Regions from separate parts of the Homo sapiens genome. Here region 2 is linked to region 1. The links come from fine-mapping of genetic effects on gene expression. A gene starts in region 1. The other region holds a variant in brackets. All regions are shown on one strand. Distances are between the middles of the regions. Region 1 holds the start of SERPINF2 (serpin family F member 2). Region 2 overlaps TLCD2 (TLC domain containing 2).

Region 1 (10,619 bases):
CAGCCTCTGGGCCCTGAACCCCTGCTGGGGCTCCACGACCCTGAGAGAAGGGGTGAGAAGAATCATCTCTGCACCTCGGGTCTCTGCCAGAGGAAGACTTAAGCATCCCTGCGACCTCACATTCTAGACAGAGATGAGGTCCAGGGGTTGGCCCCTGCTGCCTTCTCACAATTTGCAATAGATGTAAATAGGACCAATAAATCCTTTGGAAGAGCCATGGGGTGAACTGAGGCTTGTCTTTTTTTTTTTTTTCAATAGAGATGGAGTCTGACTATGTTGCCCAAGCTGGTCTCCAACTCCTGGGCTCAAGCGATCCTCCTGCCTCGGCCTCCCAAAGTGTTGGGATTACAGGCATGAGCCACCACGCCCAGCCTGAGGCTTATCTTGCTGGTGGTGTCAGGGTGGGGAAAGTCGAGACCCAGCAGTTTCCAGGACAGTGAGGGTGGGAAGGGGCCTGATGGAGGGAGTGAGGAGCAGGACAGTGAGGGTAGGAGGCGGCCTGATGCAGGGAGTGAGGCGCAGGACAGTGAGGGTGGGAAGGAGCCTGATGCAGGGAGTGAGGCGCAGGACAGTGAGGGTGGGAAGGAGCCTGATGCAGGGAGTGAGGCGCAGGACAGTGAGGGTGGGAAGGAGCCTGATGCAGGGAGTGAGGCGCAGGACAGTGAGGGTGGGAAGGAGCCTGATGCAGGGAGTGAGGCGCAGGACAGTGAGGGTGGGAAGGAGCCTGATGCAGGGAGTGAGGCGCAGGACAGTGAGGGTGGGAAGGAGCCTGATGCAGGGAGTGAGGCGCAGGACAGTGAGGGTGGGAAGGAGCCTGATGCAGGGAGTGAGGAGCCGGACAGTGAGGGTGGGAGGCGGCCTGATGCAGGGAGTGAGGCGCAGGACAGTGAGGGTGGGAAGGAGCCTGATGCAGGGAGTGAGGCGCAGGACAGTGAGGGTGGGAAGGAGCCTGATGCAGGGAGTGAGGAGCAGGACAGTGAGGGTGGGAAGGAGCCTGATGCAGGGAGTGAGGAGCCGGACAGTGAGGGTGGGAAGGAGCCTGATGCAGGGAGTGAGGAGCAGGACAGTGAGGGTGGGAAGTGGCCTGATGCAGGGAGTGAGGAGCAGGTGTGAGGGCGGGAAGCGGCCTGATGCAGGGAGTGAGGCGCAGGACAGTGAGGGTGGGAAGGAGCCTGATGCAGGGAGTGAGGCGCAGGACAGTGAGGGTGGGAAGGAGCCTGATGCAGGGAGTGAGGCGCAGGACAGTGAGGGTGGGAAGGAGCCTGATGCAGGGAGTGAGGAGCAGGACAGTGAGGGTGGGAAGTGGCCTGATGCAGGGAGTGAGGCGCAGGACAGTGAGGGTGGGAGGCGGCCTGATGCAGGGAGTGAGGCGCAGGACAGTGAGGGTGGGAAGGAGCCTGATGCAGGGAGTGAGGCGCAGGACAGTGAGGGTGGGAAGGGGCCTGATGCAGGGAGTGAGGCGCAGGACAGTGAGGGTGGGAAGGAGCCTGATGCAGGGAGTGAGGAGCCGGACAGTGAGGGTGGGAAGGAGCCTGATGCAGGGAGTGAGGAGCAGGACAGTGAGGGTGGGAGGTGGCCTGATGCAGGGAGTGAGGAGCCGGACAGTGAGGGTGGGAAGGAGCCTGATGCAGGGAGTGAGGCGCAGGACAGTGAGGGTGGGAGGCGGCCTGATGCAGGGAGTGAGGCGCAGGACAGTGAGGGTGGGAAGGAGCCTGATGCAGGGAGTGAGGAGCAGGACAGTGAGGGTGGGAGGCGGCCTGATGCAGGGAGTGAGGCGCAGGACAGTGAGGGTGGGAAGGAGCCTGATGCAGGGAGTGAGGCGCAGGACAGTGAGGGTGGGAAGGAGCCTGATGCAGGGAGTGAGGCACAGGACAGTGAGGGTGGGAAGTGGCCTGATGCAGGGAGTGAGGCGCAGGACAGTGAGGGTGGGAAGGAGCCTGATGCAGGGAGTGAGGAGCCGGACAGTGAGGGTGGGAAGGAGCCTGATGCAGGGAGTGAGGCGCAGGACAGTGAGGGTGGGAAGGGGCCTGATGCAGGGAGTGAGGCGCAGGACAGTGAGGGTGGGAAGGAGCCTGATGCAGGGAGTGAGGAGCAGGACAGTGAGGGTGGGAGGCGGCCTGATGCAGGGAGTGAGGAGCCGGACAGTGAGGGTGGGAAGGAGCCTGATGCAGGGAGTGAGGAGCCGGACAGTGAGGGTGGGAAGGAGCCTGATGCAGGGAGTGAGGCGCAGGACAGTGAGGGTGGGAGGCGGCCTGATGCAGGGAGTGAGGCGCAGGACAGTGAGGGTGGGAAGGAGCCTGATGCAGGGAGTGAGGAGCAGGACAGTCAGGGTGGGAGGCGGCCTGATGCAGGGAGTGAGGCGCAGGACAGTGAGGGTGGGAAGGAGCCTGATGCAGGGAGTGAGGCGCAGGACAGTGAGGGTGGGAAGGAGCCTGATGCAGGGAGTGAGGCGCAGGACAGTGAGGGTGGGAAGTGGCCTGATGCAGGGAGTGAGGCGCAGGACAGTGAGGGTGGGAAGTGGCCTGATGCAGGGAGTGAGGCGCAGGACAGTGAGGGTGGGAAGGGGCCTGATGCAGGGAGTGAGGCGCAGGACAGTGAGGGTGGGAAGGGGCCTGATGCAGGGAGTGAGGAGCCGGACAGTGAGGGTGGGAAGGAGCCTGATGCAGGGAGTGAGGCGCAGGACAGTGAGGGTGGGAAGGGGCCTGATGCAGGGAGTGAGGCGCAGGACAGTGAGGGTGGGAAGGGGCCTGATGCAGGGAGTGAGGAGCCGGACACTGAGGGTGGGAAGGAGCCTGATGCAGGGAGTGAGGCGCAGGACAGTGAGGGTGGGAAGGGGCCTGATGCAGGGAGTGAGGCGCAGGACAGTGAGGGTGGGAAGGGGCCTGATGCAGGGAGTGAGGAGCCGGACAGTGAGGGTGGGAAGGAGCCTGATGCAGGGAGTGAGGCGCAGGACAGTGAAGGTGGGAAGGGGCCTGATGCAGGGAGTGAGGCGCAAGACAGTGAGGGTGGGAAGGAGCCTGATGCAGGGAGTGAGGCGCAGGACAGTGAGGGTGGGAAGGAGCCTGATGCAGGGAGTGAGGAGCAGGACAGTGAAGGTGGGAAGGAGCCTGATGCAGGGAGTGAGGAGCCGGACAGTGAGGGTGGGAAGGAGCCTGATGCAGGGAGTGAGGAGCTGGACAGTGAGGATGGGAAGGAGCCTGATGCAGGGAGTGAGGAGCAGGACAGTGAGGGTGGGAAGTGGCCTGATGCAGGGAGTGAGGCGCAGGACAGTGAGGGTGGGAAGGAGCCTGATGCAGGGAGTGAGGAGCAGGACAGTGAGGGTGGGAGGCGGCCTGATGCAGGGAGTGAGGAGCCGGACAGTGAGGGTGGGAGGCGGCCTGATGCAGGGAGTGAGGAGCAGGACAGTGAGGGTGGGAAGTGGCCCGATGCAGGGAGTGAGGCGCAGGACAGTGAGGGTGGGAAGGAGCCTGATGCAGGGAGTGAGGAGCCGGACAGTGAGGGTGGGAAGGAGCCTGATGCAGGGAGTGAGGAGCCGGACAGTGAGGGTGGGAAGGAGCCTGATGCAGGGAGTGAGGAGCAGGTGTGAGGGCGGGAAGCGGCCTGATGCAGGGAGTGAGGAGCAGGACAGTGAGGGTGGGAAGGGGCCTGATACAGGGAGTGAGGAGCAGGACAGTGAGGGTGGGAAGGAGCCTGATGCAGGGAGTGAGGAGCCGGACAGTGAGGGTGGGAAGCAGCCTGATCTTTGCACGGGCTGCCAGGCTTCTGGTTCATACAGCCCCAGGTCAGTTTCCAGAACCCTCGCTCTTGGGTAGGGGAAAGAGACATTGCTCTGGAGTGGCAGGACGGTGGGAGAAGTTGAGTCCCTCTCATTTCTCCTCCCTCACCCCCTGCCTTCCATCCCAGTCTGAAGGCAGCCAACCTGATCCTGGGCTTGGAAGGTTGGGGGTGGGCTTCCTATCCTGGGCTCTCTGCATAGGCTCTTGTGGCTTCCCCTTTCCTCCCCTCAGGAGCGGGAGGCAGCTCTCTGGGAGAAGAAAGGACATTGGGAGTGAGAATCTGGATGTGCCTCAGCCCAGCTCTGTGTCCTTGGGCAGGTCACATGGCCTCTCTGAGCCTGGCTGAACCAGGGATAATCCACACCTCGTGGGGTCTCTGGAAGGCTTAACACAGTGCTAGGTTCCTGTGCTTTCTGGATCCGCCCTCTTGGCTAGCCAGATCCAGTCTCTTCAACTCTCTCCTCCTGAACTTTCTCTTTCCAGGCTCGGGGGGGGGGACCCAAATATAGGGGGTTCTGCGTGGCTGCCTCAGGGTTAGATGCCCTGGTGGGAAAGGGGCTTCTGGCTTCAAGATCAATGTTTAACTGGATGTGCAAGTCAATATTTACCAGAAGAGAAAGCAATCTGAACAGGGGTTGGCTGAGAGTAAAGGTCCTGGTGGGAGGGGAGGGGTGGGCTGGGCCAGCTGGAGCCTGGGCAGAGAGTGAGGAGCACCCAAGTGGGGCCAGAGGAACGTTGTGTGTGGCAGCAAGGAGCCCGCAGAGGTATGAGGGGAGGGGCTGCTCGGCCTGCTCCTTGGGTAGGAGAGGAGGAGGGAGCTGCCTCCCTGGCTGAGGGGTCTGGGATTTATTCAGGAGGCCTGTCACTCCCCAGCCTCTTCTGGGACTTGAAAAACTGGAGCCTGTTCTTGGCAAGAAGATTCTAATGCCCAGGTCGGAGTCGGGGCCCTGGCCAAGGGCTCTTGTGTGGGATGGGGGTGGGGCCGGGGGGACCAAAGGATCCTCCAGAAGGGTTGGCCCCAAGATGGGGGTGGGCTGGAGGTAGCTGAGACCTGCTCTGACTTATCCTCCTGAGACCAACACCTGCCCTTCCCAGAGCCAGCCTGGAGCAGAGGCCTGTGATGCTCCTAAGTGCAGAGGTGGCTCTGGCCAGAGTCATTCACTGGGCTCTGCTGCTGGGTCAAAAGGCAGCTCTCTGGCTGCCTTGCCACCCATGGTGAGACCTCAGGGCCTCACAGGTATGTCCAGCCTTGTGGGCAAGACCTGACCAGCCTGAGAAAGACGGGTTGGGGCCAGGCGTGGTGGCTCATGCCTGTCATCCCAGCACTTTGGGAGGCTGAGGCAGGTGGATCACCTGAGGTCAGGAGTTCGAGACCAGCCTGACCAACATGGAGAAACCCTGTCTCTACTAAAAATACAAAATTAGCCAGGCATGGTGGCACATGCCTGTAATCCCAGCTACTCGGGAGGCTGAGGCAGGAGAATCGCTTTAACCCAGGAGGTGGAGGTTGCAGTGAGCCGAGATCGTGCCATTGCACTCCAGCCTGCATGATAAGAATGAAACTCCATCTCAAAAAAAAAAAAAAAAAAAAAAAAGACAGGCTAAATGGATGCAGCAGGCTGGGTAGGAGCTCTGTGTTGGAGCTCTGCGGTGGAGGCTTCAGGGCAGGCTTCCCAGAAGAGGTGGCCTTGAGCCAAGCTGACCCCAGCCATCGGGGGAGTGCCAAGCATTGTACTCAGGGTTTACAAAGATGGTCTTATTTATTTTTTTGAGACAGAGTCTTGCTCTGTCGCCCAGGCTGGAGTGCAGTGGCGTGATCTCGGCTCACTGCAACCTCCGCCTCCCGGGTTCAAGCAGTTCTCTGCCTCAGCCTCCCGAGTAGCTGGGATTACAGGGGCCCACCACCACGCCTGGCTAATTTTGTATTTTCAGTAGAGATGGGGTTTTACCATGTTGGCCAGGCTGGTCTTGAACTCCCGACCTCAGGTGATCCACCTGCCCCTGGCCTCCCAAAGTGCTGGGATTACAGGCTTGAGCCACCGTGCCTGGCCACAAAGATGGTCTTTTGCCGGGTGCAGTGGCTCATGCCTGTAATCCCAGTACTTTGGGAGGCCGAGGCAGGAGGATCACCTGAGGTCGGGAGTTTAAGACCAGCCTGACTAACACAGAGAAACCCCGTTTCTACTAAGAAATACAGAATTAGCCAGGCGTGGTGGTGCATGCCTGTAATCCCAGCTATTCGGGAGGCTGAAGCAGGAGAATCGCTTGAACCTGGGAGGTGGAGGTTGCGGTGAGCCGAGATCCTGCCACTGCACTCCAGCCTGGTCAACGAGAGCGAAACTCCGTCTCAAAAAATAAACAACAAAAAATCCCAAAAAGACGGTCTTATTTTGGTCCTCACCATGCATGTGAGAAGAGTGAGGGACTTGTGCCACCGTTTTACAAGGTAAGGCCAAGCCTGGTGGAGTTACGGGAAATGCCGAGGTCCTTTGGCAAGAGGTAGCCTGGATTCAGACACAGATCTGATTCACAGCGCAGGGCCTTGTAGAATGAGAACGTTTTTGATTTGGTATCTCCCTCCTATTCACCAAAACACCCTCAGTGCATGAAATGCATGAAATATGAAACACCAGAAACTAAAAAGGGGGAGAAGCCAGGGCGGATGTCCCAGCTGCAGGAGTGGGAGCCGCTGCTCGTGTGTTTGGGGTCTGTTCTGATTCTGGAGCCTGCTTCTTCCCCTTGGCAATCATGACCCAGGACTTGGCGTTATCTGTGATCGCGTGGGTAGGATTCCCTGGCGGGCGTGGGGATGTGAGATGGGAACAGAGCTTTCTGTCCCTGCCACAGGAACATGGCGCTGCTCTGGGGGCTCCTGGTGCTCAGCTGGTCCTGCCTGCAAGGCCCCTGCTCCGTGGTGAGGCTGGGCTGAAGTCAAGGTGGGGTGGGGTGGAGGGGGAAGAAGAGGGGCGTTGGCATGGAGGGAGGGCTTGGCTCCGAGGGGACCTCCTATCCTCATCCCTTTCTCCACAGTTCTCCCCTGTGAGCGCCATGGAGCCCTTGGGCCGGCAGGTACTGGGGAGTGAGGAGCCTGTGATGGGGGGAAGGTCCCGGGGGTCTCACTGGTGGCTTGGGCAGGGTGGGGGGCCTGTGGGAAGGGTCGGTCTCCATCTGCTTGCTCCTTTCCGCAGCTAACTAGCGGGCCGAACCAGGAGCAGGTGTCCCCACTTACCCTCCTCAAGTTGGGCAACCAGGTACAACCAGGTGGGGCTGGGGAAGAGTGGGCGGGGCTAGAGGGAGGAGGGCCCATCGGCAGGGGTCGGGGGGTGGGGGCGCGTGCTGAGGCTGAGGCTCTGGAGTCCAGAGGCCAGAAGGGAGAGAGGGTGGGGAGGACCGAAGGTGGGCGCCAGGCCCCAGAATGCCAGTGCCCTCCGTCTGACGCTCCCTCTTCCCTGGGGCTGGGACAAGGCCCTGCTGTCCTCAGGCACAGGGGCTGTGACAAGGCCTTCAACACAGAACCTGGAGCTGACCCCTTGACCTCCCTGACCCCTGATCTGTCCCTGCAGGAGCCTGGTGGCCAGACTGCCCTGAAGAGTCCCCCAGGAGTCTGCAGCAGAGACCCCACCCCAGAGCAGACCCACAGGCTGGCCCGGGCCATGATGGCCTTCACTGCCGACCTGTTCTCCCTGGTGGCTCAAACGTCCACCTGCCCCAACCTCATCCTGTCACCCCTGAGTGTGGCCCTGGCGCTGTCTCACCTGGCACTAGGTACCCTGGCACCACTTGTCCAGACCAAGAGAGCTGGGAGGCCAGTAGGAACTCAGTACTCCAATGGTTCTCCGCGGGCGGTTCCTCCACCAGGGTCACGTGGCTGTTTGGTAAAAATGCAGATTCCTAGGCCGGGGCGGTGGCTCACGCCTGTAATCCCAACACTTTGGGAGGCTGAGGCGGGTGGATCACGAGGTCAGGAGTTCAAGACCAGCCTGGCCAACATGGTGAAACTCTCTCTACTAAAAATACAAAAAATTTAGCTGTGCGTGGTGGTGCGCACCTGTAATTCCAGCTACTCAGGAGGCTGAGGCAGAGAACTGTTTGAACCTGGGAGTTGGAGGTTACAGTGAGCCGAGATGGCGCCACTGCACTCCAGCCTGGGTGACAGAGCAAGATTCCGTCTCAAACAACAACAACAACAAATGCAGATTCCTGGGCCCCCACCCATCTGTCTATGTGAATCAGATCTCAGGGACTGGGCCGGGGAATCTGCTTATTTACAAGTCCTCCTGGTGATTTTTTTTTTTTTTTTGAGACAGAGTCTTGCTCTGTCACCCAGGCTAGAGTGCAGTGGTGTGATCTCAGCTCACTGCAACCTCTGTCTCCCAGGTTCAAGCAATTCTCCTGCCTCAGCCTCCCAAATAGCTGGGATCACAGGCACCAGCCACCATGCACAGCTGATTTTTGTATTTTTAGTAGAGACGGGGTTTCACCATGTTGGCCAGGGTGGTCTCGAACTCTCGACCTAAGGTGATCAACCTGCCTCAGCCTCCCAAAGTGCTGGGATTACAGGCGTGAGCCACCGCGCCCGGCCCCTCCTGGTGATTCTTATGCAAGAGTTTGCTAGCTACACTCTTTCCCACTGTGCTGGAGGGTCTCACTGTGGGAAACGGAAGCCCAGAGAGGGAAGGTAACTTGTGGGGGGTGAGGTCACCCAGCCTGTCAGCCACAGGGGTGAGAGCCACGCAGAACAGATCCGTGGCTGTGGAAGGATGGCGTGTGGTCCCGTGGACGTCCTCGTCACGGGTATCCAGGAGGGACTGGAGTGGGCAGTGGGGGTGAGAAAGGACCCGCAGCCGGGCCTCAGCCTGTGCGGTGCCCTCCAGGTGCTCAGAACCACACGTTGCAGAGGCTGCAACAGGTGCTGCACGCAGGCTCAGGGCCCTGCCTCCCCCATCTGCTGAGCCGCCTCTGCCAGGACCTGGGCCCCGGCGCGTTCCGACTGGCTGCCAGGATGTACCTGCAGAAAGGTAGGCGCTGATGGCAGGGAGCTCCCTCAGTCCTGCCCTGGGTGGAGGAGGGTGAGAGCAAGGGGCTGGGCCTCTGGTAGCGAGTAGGGGCGTGTCTGGCTGTGGAGCCTGGAGCCCTGGGAACAGCTTGTGCTGCCTCCGTGCAGGATTTCCCATCAAAGAAGATTTCCTGGAACAATCCGAACAGCTATTTGGGGCAAAGCCCGTGAGCCTGACGGGAAAGCAGGAAGATGACCTGGCAAACATCAACCAATGGGTGAAGGAGGCCACGGAGGGGAAGATTCAGGAATTCCTCTCTGGGCTGCCGGAAGACACCGTGTTGCTTCTCCTCAACGCCATCCACTTCCAGGGTGCGCTCCTCCTCCTCTCAGATCCCCCACCCTGTAGGCTGAGCTGGGACGTGCAGGCCTTTTTGTTTTTTGAGACAAGTCTCGCTCTGTCACCCAGGGTGGAGCGCAGTGGCGCGATCTCGGCTCCCTGCAACCTCCGCCTCCCGGATTGAAGCGATTCTCCTGGCTCAGCCTCCCCAGTAGCTGGGATTACAGGCATCTGCCACCACACCCAGCTAATTTTTGTATTTTAGTAGAGACAGGGTTTCACCATGTTGGCCAGGCTGGCCTTGAACTCCTGACCTCAGGTGATCCACCCACCTCGGCCTCCCAAAGTGCTGGGATTACAGGCGTGAGCCACCGCGCCCGGCCATGCAGGCTTTGTTCTGAGGGTCTCCTTTCTTCCTCAGTCTGGGCCATGAGGCAGGAGGCTGTCTGGGTGTGGTGGGGATGGGTGCCCAGGAGCCAGATGAGTTGTTCTAGAGTGAATACCCTGGGAACAAATGGTCTGAAAAGATCCAGGAGGGGCTGGGCGCGGTGGCTCACGCCTGTAATCCCAACACTTTGGGAGGCCGAGGCGGGCAGATCATGAGGTCAGGAGATGGAGACCATCCTGGCTAACACGGTGAAACCCCCGTCTCTGCTAAAAATACAAAAAAATTAGCTGGGCGTAGTGGCGGGCACCTGTAGTCCCAGCTACTCGGGAGGCTGAGGCAGGAGAATGGCGTGAGCCCGGGAGGCGGTGGAGCTTGCAGTGAGCGGAGGTCGTGCCACTGCACTCCAGCCTGGGCGACAGAGCGAGACTCCGTCTAAAAAAAAAAAAAAAGATCCAGGAGGAGGTTCCTAGGAGAATTGCAGGGGTTGGGGAAAACACAAGCCCAGATTTCAAAAATGCTACGGGAAAGAGACCTTAGATCAATTGGATGCCAGCTAGCATTCCCTGGGGTCTTGGCCTCCACCGCTGTCTCATCCTTGAATGGATTCTGGGTGGGACAGGCAACGGGCTGGGGGTGCAGAGCCCAAGCTGGTCCCCATCGACGTGACCCCTGCCCTCTGCCCCAAGCTGGTCCCCGTCGACGTGACCCCTGCCCTCTGCTGGGTTTCAGGTTTCTGGAGGAACAAGTTTGACCCGAGCCTTACCCAGAGAGACTCCTTCCACCTGGACGAGCAGTTCACGGTGCCCGTGGAAATGATGCAGGCCCGCACGTACCCGCTGCGCTGGTTCTTGCTGGAGCAGCCTGAGATCCAGGTCACCCTTGGTTGTCCAGCAGGCTGGGCCTGAGGCTGGGAGGTGGGGAAGGGAGTGGACAGGCTGTGGAGCAGGCACAGGGATGGGTGGAGGCTGTCTCGCCTTCCTTGCCTCCACGTCCCCTAGGCAGGCAACTGCAAAAGGTCCCATGATCCCCCATCCTACCTGGCAGGAGGACTGAGGCTCCAGGCTCTTTGAGGTTTAGTAATTCAGTGAAAATATACTGGGCATTTGCTGTGTTCCAGAT
Region 2 (10,619 bases), 43 kb before region 1:
TCAGGGACGACTCCTCAGTTCCCGATTTGCACAGTGCGTCGATGGCAGGGTCATGCACAGACTGAGTGGACTGGATGCAGGTTTGGAAGGAAAGCGCCTGAGTCGGGTTCTGGAGAACCCTTTGGATGTCAGAATGCAACCATCCCATCCTCTAGATTCATCTGCTCATTCTCAGGCTACAGGTACTTGAATGACCTGTTTCTTCAGTTTCTTTTTCTTTTCCTTTTTTTTTGAGAGACAGGATCTCACTCTGTCACCCAGGTTGGAGTGCAGTGGTGCAATCTTGGCTTACTGCAACCTCTGCCTCCTGGGTTCAAGCGATTCTCCCACCTCAGCCTCCTGAGTAGCTGGGATTACAGGTGCATACCACCACATCTGGCTAATTTTTGTAATTTTAGTAGAGACAGGGTTTCCCCATGTTGACCAGGCTGGTCTTGAACCTCTGACCTCAAGTGATCCGTCTGCCTCGGCCTCCCAAAGTGCTAGGATTATAGGCGTGAGCCAACGCACCCGGCCAAGGATGACCTGTTTCTGTATCTGTCACCCCTGGTTTCCCTCTGCCGAATGACTCCTACTTTCTCAGTTCCTCACTCTCTAACACAGTCCTGAGTGCAGGCTCTCTGATGCCAGGGCTCTGGTTCATTGACTCACTATTACACCTCATAGTTTGTGCTTGGCATGTCGTAGGCCCTTTATAAATATTTGTTATAAAGAGAATAAAGTCAGCTGGGCGAGGTGGCTCACACCTGTAATCCCAGCACTCTGGAAGACCGAGGTGGGCGCATCACCTGAGGTCAGAAGTTCAAGACCAGCCTGGCCATGCTGAAACCCCGTCTCTACTAAAAACACAAAAAATTAGCCGGGCATGGTGGCTGGTGCCTGTAATCCCAACTACTCGGAAGGCTGAGGCAGAAGAATTGCTTGAACCTGGGAGGCGGAGGTTGCCGTGAGCCAAAATAGCGCCATTGCGCTCCAGCCTGGGCAACAAGAGCGAAACTCCGTCTCAAAAAAAAAAAAAAAAAAGAGAATAAAGTCTGGGTGCGGTAGCTCACGCCTGTAATCCCAGCAATTTAGGAGGCCAAGGCGGGCAGATCACTTGAGACCAGTTCAAGACCTGCCTGGCCAATATGGTGAAACCTAGTCTGTACTAAAAATATAAAAAACAGCCGGGCATGGTGGCAGGTGCCTGTAATCCCAGCTACTCGGGAGGCTGAGGCAGGAGAATCGCTTGAACACAGGAGGCAGAGGTTGTAGTGAGCCAAGATCGCACCATTGTGCTCCAGCCTGGGCAACAAGAGCAAAACTCCATCTCAAAAAAACAAACAAAAAAAAGACAGAGAATAAAGAAAAATGAACTGTCCCAGTGATACTTGGAGCCACAGAGTAAATTGGCACATCTTCCTTAAATCATAAAATTGGGCCGGGCGCGGTGGTTCACGCCTGTAATCCCAGCACTTTTGGAGGCCGAGGCGCGCAGATCATGAGGTCAGGAGATCGAGACCATTCTGGTTAACACGGTGAAACCCCGTCTCCACTAAAAATACAAAAAAAGTTAGCCAGGCGTGGGGCCAGGCACGGTGGCTCACGCCTGTAATCCCAGCACTTTGGGAGGCCGAAGCGGGTAGATCACGAGGTCAGGAGATCGAGACCATCCTGGCTAACATGGTGAAACCCCGTCTCTACTAAATGTACAAAAAATTAGCTGGGCGTGGTGGCAGGCGCCTGTAGTCCCAGCTACTCGGGAGGCTGAGACAGGAGAATGGTGTGAATCCGGGAGACGGAGCTTGCAGTGAGCCGAGATCGCACCACTGCCCTCCAGCCTGGGCGACAGAGCGAGACTCCGTCTCAAAAAAAAAAAAAAAGAAAAAAAAATTGACAGTTTCACTTGTCATTTTGTAAAATTTTTTTTAAAAACAAGTATTGTAATTGTATTTGAAATGGTATTTTATTTTATCTTTTTAATTTTTTTTACAGACAGACTCCAGACTCCACTGTTGCCCAGGCTGGAGTGCAGGACACAATCATGACTTACTGTAGCCTCCAACTCCAGGAGGCTGAGTGACCTCCCACCTGAGCCTCCTGAGTAGCTAGGACTGTAGATGTGTACCACTGTGCCTGGCTTTTTTTTTTTTTTTTTTTGAGATGGAGTCTCATTCTGTCTGCCAGACTGGAGTGCAGTGGCACGATCTCGGCTCACTGCAATCTCCGCCTCCTGGGTTCAAGCAATTCTCCTGCCTCAGCCTCCCGAGTAGCTGGGACTACAGGAGCCTGCCATCACGCCCAGCTAATTTTATTTTATTTTATTTTATTTTATTTTATTTTATTTTATTTTATTTTATTTTATTTTTTGTATTTTAGTAGAGACGAGGTTTTACCATGTTGCCCAGGCTGGTCTCAAACTCCTGAGCTCAGGCAGTCCACCCATCTCGGCCTCCCAAAAGTGCTGGGATTATAGGCATGAGCCACCGCACCTGACCACCTGGCTAATATTTTTATTATTTGTAGAGATGGGGCTCTCACTATATTGCCCAGGCTGGTCTCAAATTTCTGGACTCAAGTCATCTTCCCGCCTTGGCCTCCCAAACTGCTGGGATTATAGGCGTGAGCCACCGCAGCCGGACTTATATGAATTTTTAGATTCAACATATTTCAAGGAAATGCTGCTGCAGTGGCCCTAGACTGTTTCCCTCCCCCATCTCCTCCATCTCCCCAGCACCCCACTCCTGTTTGCTGTTGAGGTGGAAATATTTGGATTCCACACAGTCGGGGTTGGGGAAGGAAGGGGAGGAGTTTGAAGAAAACGATGTTTGGACAAGCCGTAAGGAGAGCAAGTGAATAGCTAGGTAGCAGGGCTGGCCTGCGTCAGTGCAGCAGGAATTTGTGGCCCTCCAGTTCTGCAGGCTTCTCTATCCTCTTCTAGCAGTGCCCTGACCTGGGATCTGAGGCAGAGAGAGTTGCCATGCCAGCCTCTCAAGCCCCAGGATTAGCAATGCCAACCGGTGAAGGTTTAGGAGATGAGGGAGTGCTCTTAAGGGCACAGACTGGCAGGCCAGAGTGAGGGGCAAAGCCTCAGCCAAAGAAATTATTTACTATCGGCCGGGCTCAGTGGCTCGAGCCTGTAATCCCAGCACTTTGGGAGGCTAAGTCGGGCGAATCATGAGGTCAGAGGATGGAGACTATCCTGGCTAACATGCTGAAACCCCATCTCCGGCTGGGTGCGGTGGCTCATGCCTGTAATCCTAGCACTTTTGGAGGCCGAGACAGGCAGATCACGAGGTCAGGAGATCGAGACCATCCTGGCTAACACAGTGAAACCCCGTCTCTACTAAAAATACAAAAAATTAGCCGGGTGTGGTGGCTGGCGCCTAGAGTCCCAGATACTCGGGAGGTTGAGGCAGGAGAATGGAACCTGGCAGGCAGAGCCTGCAGTGGGCCAAGATCTCGCCACTGCATTCCAGCCTGGGCTTCAGACTCCATCTCCAAAAAAACAAAAACAAAAACAAAAACAAAAAACAAAGAAACCCCGTCTCTACTAAAAATACAAAAAATTAGCTGGGCATGGTGGCATGTGCCTGTAGTCCCAGCTACTCGGGAGGCTGAGGCAGGAGAATCACTTGAACCCGGGAGGTGGAGGTTGCAGAGAGCCGAGATTATGCCACTGCACTCCAGCCTGGGCAACAGAGTGAGACTCCGTCTCAAAAAAAAAAAAAAGTATATGTTCCACAGTACCAAGCTAAGTGATGTTCATGTCTACAGAGGAAAGCTGAAATGAACCTCTGCCCTCCACAATTACTGCATTCCTGAAAAGTGCAGAAATCAATACTTGACCATAGGAGTCTGCCTTTTTTTTTTGAGACAGAGTCTCGCTCTATCGCCCAGGCTGGAGTGCAGTGGCACCATCTCGGCTCACTGCAAGCTCCGCCTCCTGGGTTCACTCCATTCTCCTGCCTCAGCCTCCTGAGTAGCTGGGACTACAGGCGCCCGCCACCATGCCCGGCTAATTTTTTGTATTTTTATTAGAGACGGGGTTTCACTGTGTTAGCCAGGATGGTCTCGCTCTCCTGACCTCATGATCTGCCAGCCTCGGCCTCCCAAAGTGCTGAGATTACAGGCGTGAGCCACCGTGCCCAGCCTAGAGTCTGCCTTTCAAACTGAAACACCCTGACTTATATATATCACTTCAGAGGCAATTTATCCGACTTGATGGATGTTTAGTTGTCAGCTGACTCCTACCTTTCTACCTTGAAATTTCTCCACTCTGTGGCCTTTCTATAAAGAAAGAGGCAAAATAGTGTATAGGAAAGAGCCCTGAACCAAACCAAAGACCTCGATTCTGATTCGGGCTGTGCTACAGACTAGCTGAGTATGCTTGGATAAGTCACTTAACCTCTCTAGGCTTCAGTTCCTTCAATTCTCTGCAAAATGAAAAGAACAGACTGGATAATCTTTTTTTTTTTTTGAGATGGAGTCTTGTTCTGTTGCCCAGGCTGGAGTGCAGTGGCGCGATCTTGGCTCACTGCAACCTCCACCTCTGGGGTTCAAGCTATTCTCCTGCCTCAGCCTCCCAAGTAGGTGGGACTACAGGGACCTGCCACCACACCTAGCTAATTTTTTTTTTTTTGAGATGGAGTCTCACTCTGTTGTCCAGGCTGGAGTGCAGTGGCACGATCTCAGCTCACTGCAAGTTCCGCCTCCCAGGTTCACGCCATTCCCCTGCCTCAGCTGCAGCTGGGACCACAGGTGCCCACCAACACGCCCGGCTAATTTTTTTGTATTTTTAGTAGAGATGGGGTTTCGCTGTGTTAGCCAGGATGGTCTTGATCTCCTGACCTCGCGATCCGCCCGCCTCGGCCTCCCAAAGTGCTGGGATTACAGGCGTGAGCTACCGCGCCCGGCCTCACCTTAGTTATTTTTGTATTTTTAGTAAAGACAGGATTTCACCATGTTGGCCAGTCTGGTCTCAAACTCCTGGCCTCAAGTGATCCGCCTGCCTCGGCCTCCCAAGGTACTGGGATTACAGGCATGAGCCACCATGCCCCAGCCTGTTTGTTTTTTCATCTGAAAGATGGAATGAGAACAGGTGCAGTGACTCATGCGTGTATCCCAGCACTTTGGGAGGCCAAGGCAAGAGGATCACTTGAGCCCAGGGATTCCAGACCAGCCTGGGCAACATGGTGAGACTCCCTCTCACACCTATAATCTCAGCGCTTTGAGAGGCCAAGGGAGGAGAATTGCTTGAGGCCGGGAGTTGGAGACCAGCCTGGGCAACATGGTAAGACCCCATCTCTGGAAAAATAAAAAAAGATTTTTTAAATTA[GC/G]CAGGCATCGTGGCACACACCTGTGGTCCCAGCTACTCAGGAGGCTGAGGTGGGAGGATCGCTTGAGCCCAGGAGGTCAAGGCTGCAGTGAGCCATGTTTGTGCAACTGCACTCCAACCTGGGTGACAGAGTGAGACCCTGTCTCAATTTAAAAAAAAATGGCTGGGCGCAGTGGCTCATGCCTGTAACCCTACCACTTTGGGAGGCTGAGATGGGTGGATTGCTTGAGCCCAGCAATTTGAGACCAGCCTGGGGAACATGGTGAAACCCTGTCTCTATTTAAAAAAAAAAAATGTATCTGGGTGTAGTGATGCATGTCTGTAATCCCACCTACTCAGGAGGCTAAGGCAGGAGGATCGCCTGAGCCCAGGAGCCAGGAGTTGGAGGCTGCAGTGAGCTACGATTGCACCACTGTACTCCAGCCTGGGTGACAGGGTGAGACCCCGTCTCAAAAAATAAAAATAAAAACAAAAGATGAGGTGAAGCTCTGTTGTGTGAGATTAAATGGGATAATGTGTAAAAGGTGCCTGATGGCCAGGCACGGTGGCTCACGCCTGTAATCTCAGCACTTTGGGAGGCCAAGGCAGGCGGATCACGAGGTCAGGAGTTTGAAACCAGCCTGGCCAACATGGTGAAACCCTGTCTCTACCAAAAATACAAAAAAATTAGCTGGGCGTGGTGGCGGGCGCCTGTAATCCCTGCTACTCAGGAGGCTGAGGCAGGAGAATCTCTTGAAATCGTAAGGCAGAGGTTGCAGTGAGCTGAGATCACGCCACTGCACTCCAGCCTGGGCAGCAAGAGCAAAACTCCGTCTCAAAAATAAATAAATAAAATTAAATAAATAAATAAATAAATAAAAGGTGCCTGACATGGGGAAGGGGCACGACAAATGTTCGGCCGAGGATGCTCCTAAATAAATATTCATTTCAACACAAGAGCTCCTCTCTAAAGAGTAACTTCCCTTACATAGTTTTTTGCAAAATGAGGACTTCTAATTTTCAGCCCAACAAAATCCAGATTTTATGTGATAAAGTTTTGACAGTTCAGTTATGAAGTTTTCTGTTGACTCAGGATTAATTTGGCTACAAGATTCTTTTGGTTTCAACCCTTGGCACTGAAAATCATTCTGCAGGCCCGGCGCAGTGCCTCACGCCTGTAATCCCAGCACTTTGGGAGGTGAGGCAGGTGGATCACCTGAGGTCAGGAGTTCGAGACCAGCCTGGCCAACTTGGTGAAACCCCATCTCTACTAAAAATATAAAAATTAGCAGGGCGTGGTGGCTCACGCCTGTAATCCCAGCACTTTGGGAGGCCGAGGTGGGCGGATCACAAGGTCAGGAGATCGAGACCATGCTGGCTAACACGGTGAAACCCCGTCTCTAGTAAAAATACAAAATATTAGCCGGGCGTGGTGGCGGGCACCTGTAGTCCCAGCTACTCGCGGGGGAGGGGGGCGGGCGGAGGGGAGGCTGAGGCAGGAGAATGGCATGAACCCGGGAGGCGGAGCTTGCAGTGAGCCGAGATCGTGCCGCTGCACTCTAGCCTGGGTGACAGAGCGAGACTCCATCTCAAAAAAAACAAAAAAAAAGAAAGAAAAGAAAATCATTCTAAACTCTGAATCCGGCTGGGTGTGATGGCTCACGCCTGTAATCCCAGCATTTTGGGAGGCCAAGGTGGGCGGATCACTTGAGGTCAGGAGTTCGAGACCAGCCTGGCCAACATGGTGAAACCCCGTCTCTACTAAAAATACAAAAATTAGCCAGGTGTGGTGGTGCACGCCTGTAGTCCCAGCTACTCGGGAGGCTGAGGCATGAGAAACGTATGAACCCAGGAGGTGGAGGCTGCAGCGAGCTGAGATTGAGCCACTGCACTCCAGCCTGGGTGGCAGAGTGAGACTCTGTCTCAGAAAAAAAAAAAAAAAAAAAAAGATGAGGTTTTGCTATGTTACCCAGGCCAGTGTTGAACGCCTGGGCCCAAGCCTCAGCCTCCCAAAGTGCTGGAATTACAGGAATCAACCAACTCGCCTGACACTGGATTTGCTTTTTTTATTTTTTCGAAACAGTCTTGCTCTGTCTCCCAGGCTAGAGTGCAGTGGTGCAATCTCAGCTCCCTGTAACCTCCACCTCCTGAGTTCAAATGATTCTCCTGCCTCAGCCTCCCGAGTAGCTGGCGTTACAGGCGCCTGCCACCACGCCCAGCTAATTTTTATACTTTTAGTAGAGATGAGGGTTCACCATGTTGGCCAGGCTGGTCTCGAACCCCTGACCTCAAGTGATCCACCAGCCTCAGCCTCCCAAAGTGCTGGGATTACAGGCATGAGCCACTGCACCCAGCCAGGAGTTGCTTTTTGATTATAGAGGGTATCAGGACACGTCAGGGTGGAAACTTTCCCAAGGCAAAGCCTCCACAATCTAGCATCGAATTGTAAATCAGGACACCATTGGAGCCAAAAAGTAACTCAAAGTAACCACGCTCATAAGAGATTGATGCAACTAATGCAATTATTTGCATAGCAATTTATTAATTTATAATCAGGATAGTGTTTCAAGGCCATAAAATATCAATGTATCCCATCCAGAAAAGCCCCTTCCCTGTCCTGGAGGACAAAGAAATCATTAGCAAGTAGCTTGGTAGACATGGAGTCCGTCTTGAGGACCATTTCCCTGGGCCACGGTAAAGTCTGGCGAAGCACCACTGTGCTAAGCAGACTCCTACCAAATGGAGCATCTGGCAATCTCTGCTTTTTTTTTTTTTAACCTCTGCATTTTTGAACGTCCTTTTTTTAGGGTCTTAATTGACCATTCTTCTTTGATTCACATCATCTTTATGTTGCCCACACTCCAATTCTCTGCCTACTTACTCAGTTGTAATCACAATCCAGTCCTGCCTTCCTCAAGTTTCACTGGCTCACCATGGTAGCAATTCGTGTGTGGTCCCAAATTCTTCCAAGCGTCCACTACATCCTGCCCCACCTGGGAGCTGACCTCACTCTTCCTGTATGGGCTTGACTAGTTAATCCACAGAAACAGCCATGTTTCCCTAATGGTCAAGTTCTTGGGCAGCCTTCATAGACACTATCTATCTATCTATCTGTCTATTTATTTATTTATTTATTTTTTAAGACGGAGTCTTGCTCTGTCACCCAGGCTGGAGTGCAGTGGCACGATCTTGGCTCACTGCAAGCTCCGCCTCCCGGGTTCATGCCATTCTCCTGCCTCAGCCTCCTGAGTAGCTGGGACTACAGGCGCCCGCCACCACGCCCGGCTAATTTTTTTTATTTTTAGTAGAGATGGGATTTCACCTGCCTCGGTCCCCCAAAGTGCTGGGATTACAGGCGTGAGCCACCACGCCCGGCCTCATAGACACTATCAAGTATTACCAAAAGGGACACTCACTCAAACCATCATGAATGTATACCAGTGGCCAAAGAAAAGGTGTATGACTTAGAATCAATTCATATCAACCTCAACAGATATTTAAGGAATAGATTCCTCACATGAGTTTGTCATATTTCTTTTTCTTTAAAAACTCAAGGCAGACAACATTTTTGTTAATCAAGGCATTCAGTTAAGATGGCAAATTGAGTTTTGCAGATATGACTTTTTTTTTTAATTAAAAATTTTTTTTTGGCCGGGTGTGTTGGCTCACGCATATAATCCCAGTAGTTTGGGAGCCCAAGGTGGGCGGATCACCTGAGGTCAGGAGTTTGAGACCAGCCTGGCCAATATGGTGAAATCCTGTCTCTACTAAAAACACAAAAATTAGCCGAGTGTGGTGGTGGGTACCTGTAATCCCAGCTACTAGGGAGGCTGAGGCAGGAGAATCACTTGAGTCCAGGAGGTGGAGGTTGCAGTGAGCCAAGATTGTGCCACTGCATTCCAGCCTGGGCAGCAAGAATGAAACTGTCTCAAAAAAAAAAAAAAAAAAAGAAGAAAAGAAAGAAAAAAGAAAATTTTTTTTTTTTGTAGAGAGGAGGTCTCAATATGTTGCCCAGACTGGTCTTGAACTCCTGAGCTCAACCACTCCTCCTACCTCGGCCTCCCAAAGTGCTGGGATTACAGGCGTGAGCCACCATGCCCAGCCAGCAAACATGACTTCTAGAAGTACAGACTCTGACAAAATTCTGCATTGTTTCTCTAGCTCACTATCTATACCTTTGCCTCTTGGGTTTTTATCTAATTACATTTAAATGCTCTGCTCTTATTTTCTGCTTGTGTTTAGCTCCTTCCAACTGTGTTTTCCTCAGTCTCGATGTATTTTCATCCTTTGCGCCTGTTTTTATGACTCTATGATGGAGACTTCTCACAATCCCTCTCATTTTTTTTTCACACCTGTATTTTTCCTCCTCTTTTCATTTCTGGGTTCCTGCCTCTTCTTTGTTCTTTGGATATTCAATTTTTTTTTTTGAGACGGAGTCTCACTCTGTCACCCCTGCTGGACTGCAGTGGCACTATCTCGGCTCATTATAACAACCTCGGCCTCCCAGGTTCAAACGATTCTCCTGCCTCAGCCTCCTCAGTAGCCGGGATTACGGGCGCCTGCCACCACGCCCGGCCAATTTTTTGTATTTTTAGTAGAGATGGTGTTTCACCATGTTAGCCAGGATGGTCATCTCCTGACCTCGTGATCCGCCTGCCTCGGCCTCCCAAAATGCTGGGATTACAGGCGTGACCCACCATGCCCAGCCTGGATATTTAAATTGTTCTGTGCTCTCCTCCTTTTTTTTCTCTCTGTGATTCTCTTTGTCAGCTCCTTTGCCTATATTTGCATCTCAGTTGACACCCCTGATTCTGACTTGTCCTTATCTTCCTACCAGTCTCTGCCGACCGGTTACTGTCAGCCTGTCTTTAGGGTTTGCGCTGCAGCTGTTTGTCCTTTGTCTTTCTGCCTGCCTCCAAGTCCCCATATCTCCTGGTCTCTTCTGTCAGTGAATCTTCCCACTGACTGCCTCCTCCGCCTTCTGCTTCTCAGCTCCCCGGACTCGTCCCCGCTCTTCTCTGTTCCCACCTCTCCTCTTGCTCTTCTGATCTCTCTATCTGCCAGTATTTCCTCCATCACTCCTGAGCCTGGGTGTTTCTCCTTGTCACTCACTCTATTTCACTGTCTAGACTCTCTGTGCCTTTCAGCCTTGGGGTCTCTTCTTGTCGGCCTTCATTTCTATTTTTCTGGTCCTTTTTGTTTATAACCCTTTTATCAGTTCTGTGACTTTGGTGTCTCTCAGGATCTATGACAGCCTTTCTCCATATTTCTGCTAGGGCCTGTCTCTTTTGCCCTCCATCCTTCTTTGCCTCTGTCACCTCTA

What was found.
Region 2: its variant is fine-mapped to the expression of SERPINF2 in whole blood (TOPMed, PIP 0.97).

What each region holds. Positions count from the first base shown.
Region 1 is chr17:1,738,369-1,748,987 of GRCh38, forward strand. It overlaps SERPINF2 (serpin family F member 2), which reads left to right and starts at 4,503. Exons shown (of 10, transcript NM_000934.4): 1 at 4,503-4,540; 2 at 6,624-6,690; 3 at 6,807-6,845; 4 at 6,965-7,027; 5 at 7,340-7,541; 6 at 8,651-8,794; 7 at 8,941-9,144; 8 at 10,230-10,372. The coding sequence starts at 6,628. WDR81 (WD repeat domain 81) reads left to right here. Exons shown (of 10, transcript NM_001163809.2): 10 at 1-217.
Region 2 is chr17:1,694,998-1,705,616 of GRCh38, forward strand. It overlaps TLCD2 (TLC domain containing 2), which reads right to left. Exons shown (of 4, transcript NM_001164407.2): 4 at 7,819-10,619. Among named protein-coding and RNA genes, the nearest start is that of TLCD2, 10 kb to the right of the region's middle. The variant GC/G (reference allele first, on the strand shown) is at 5,318.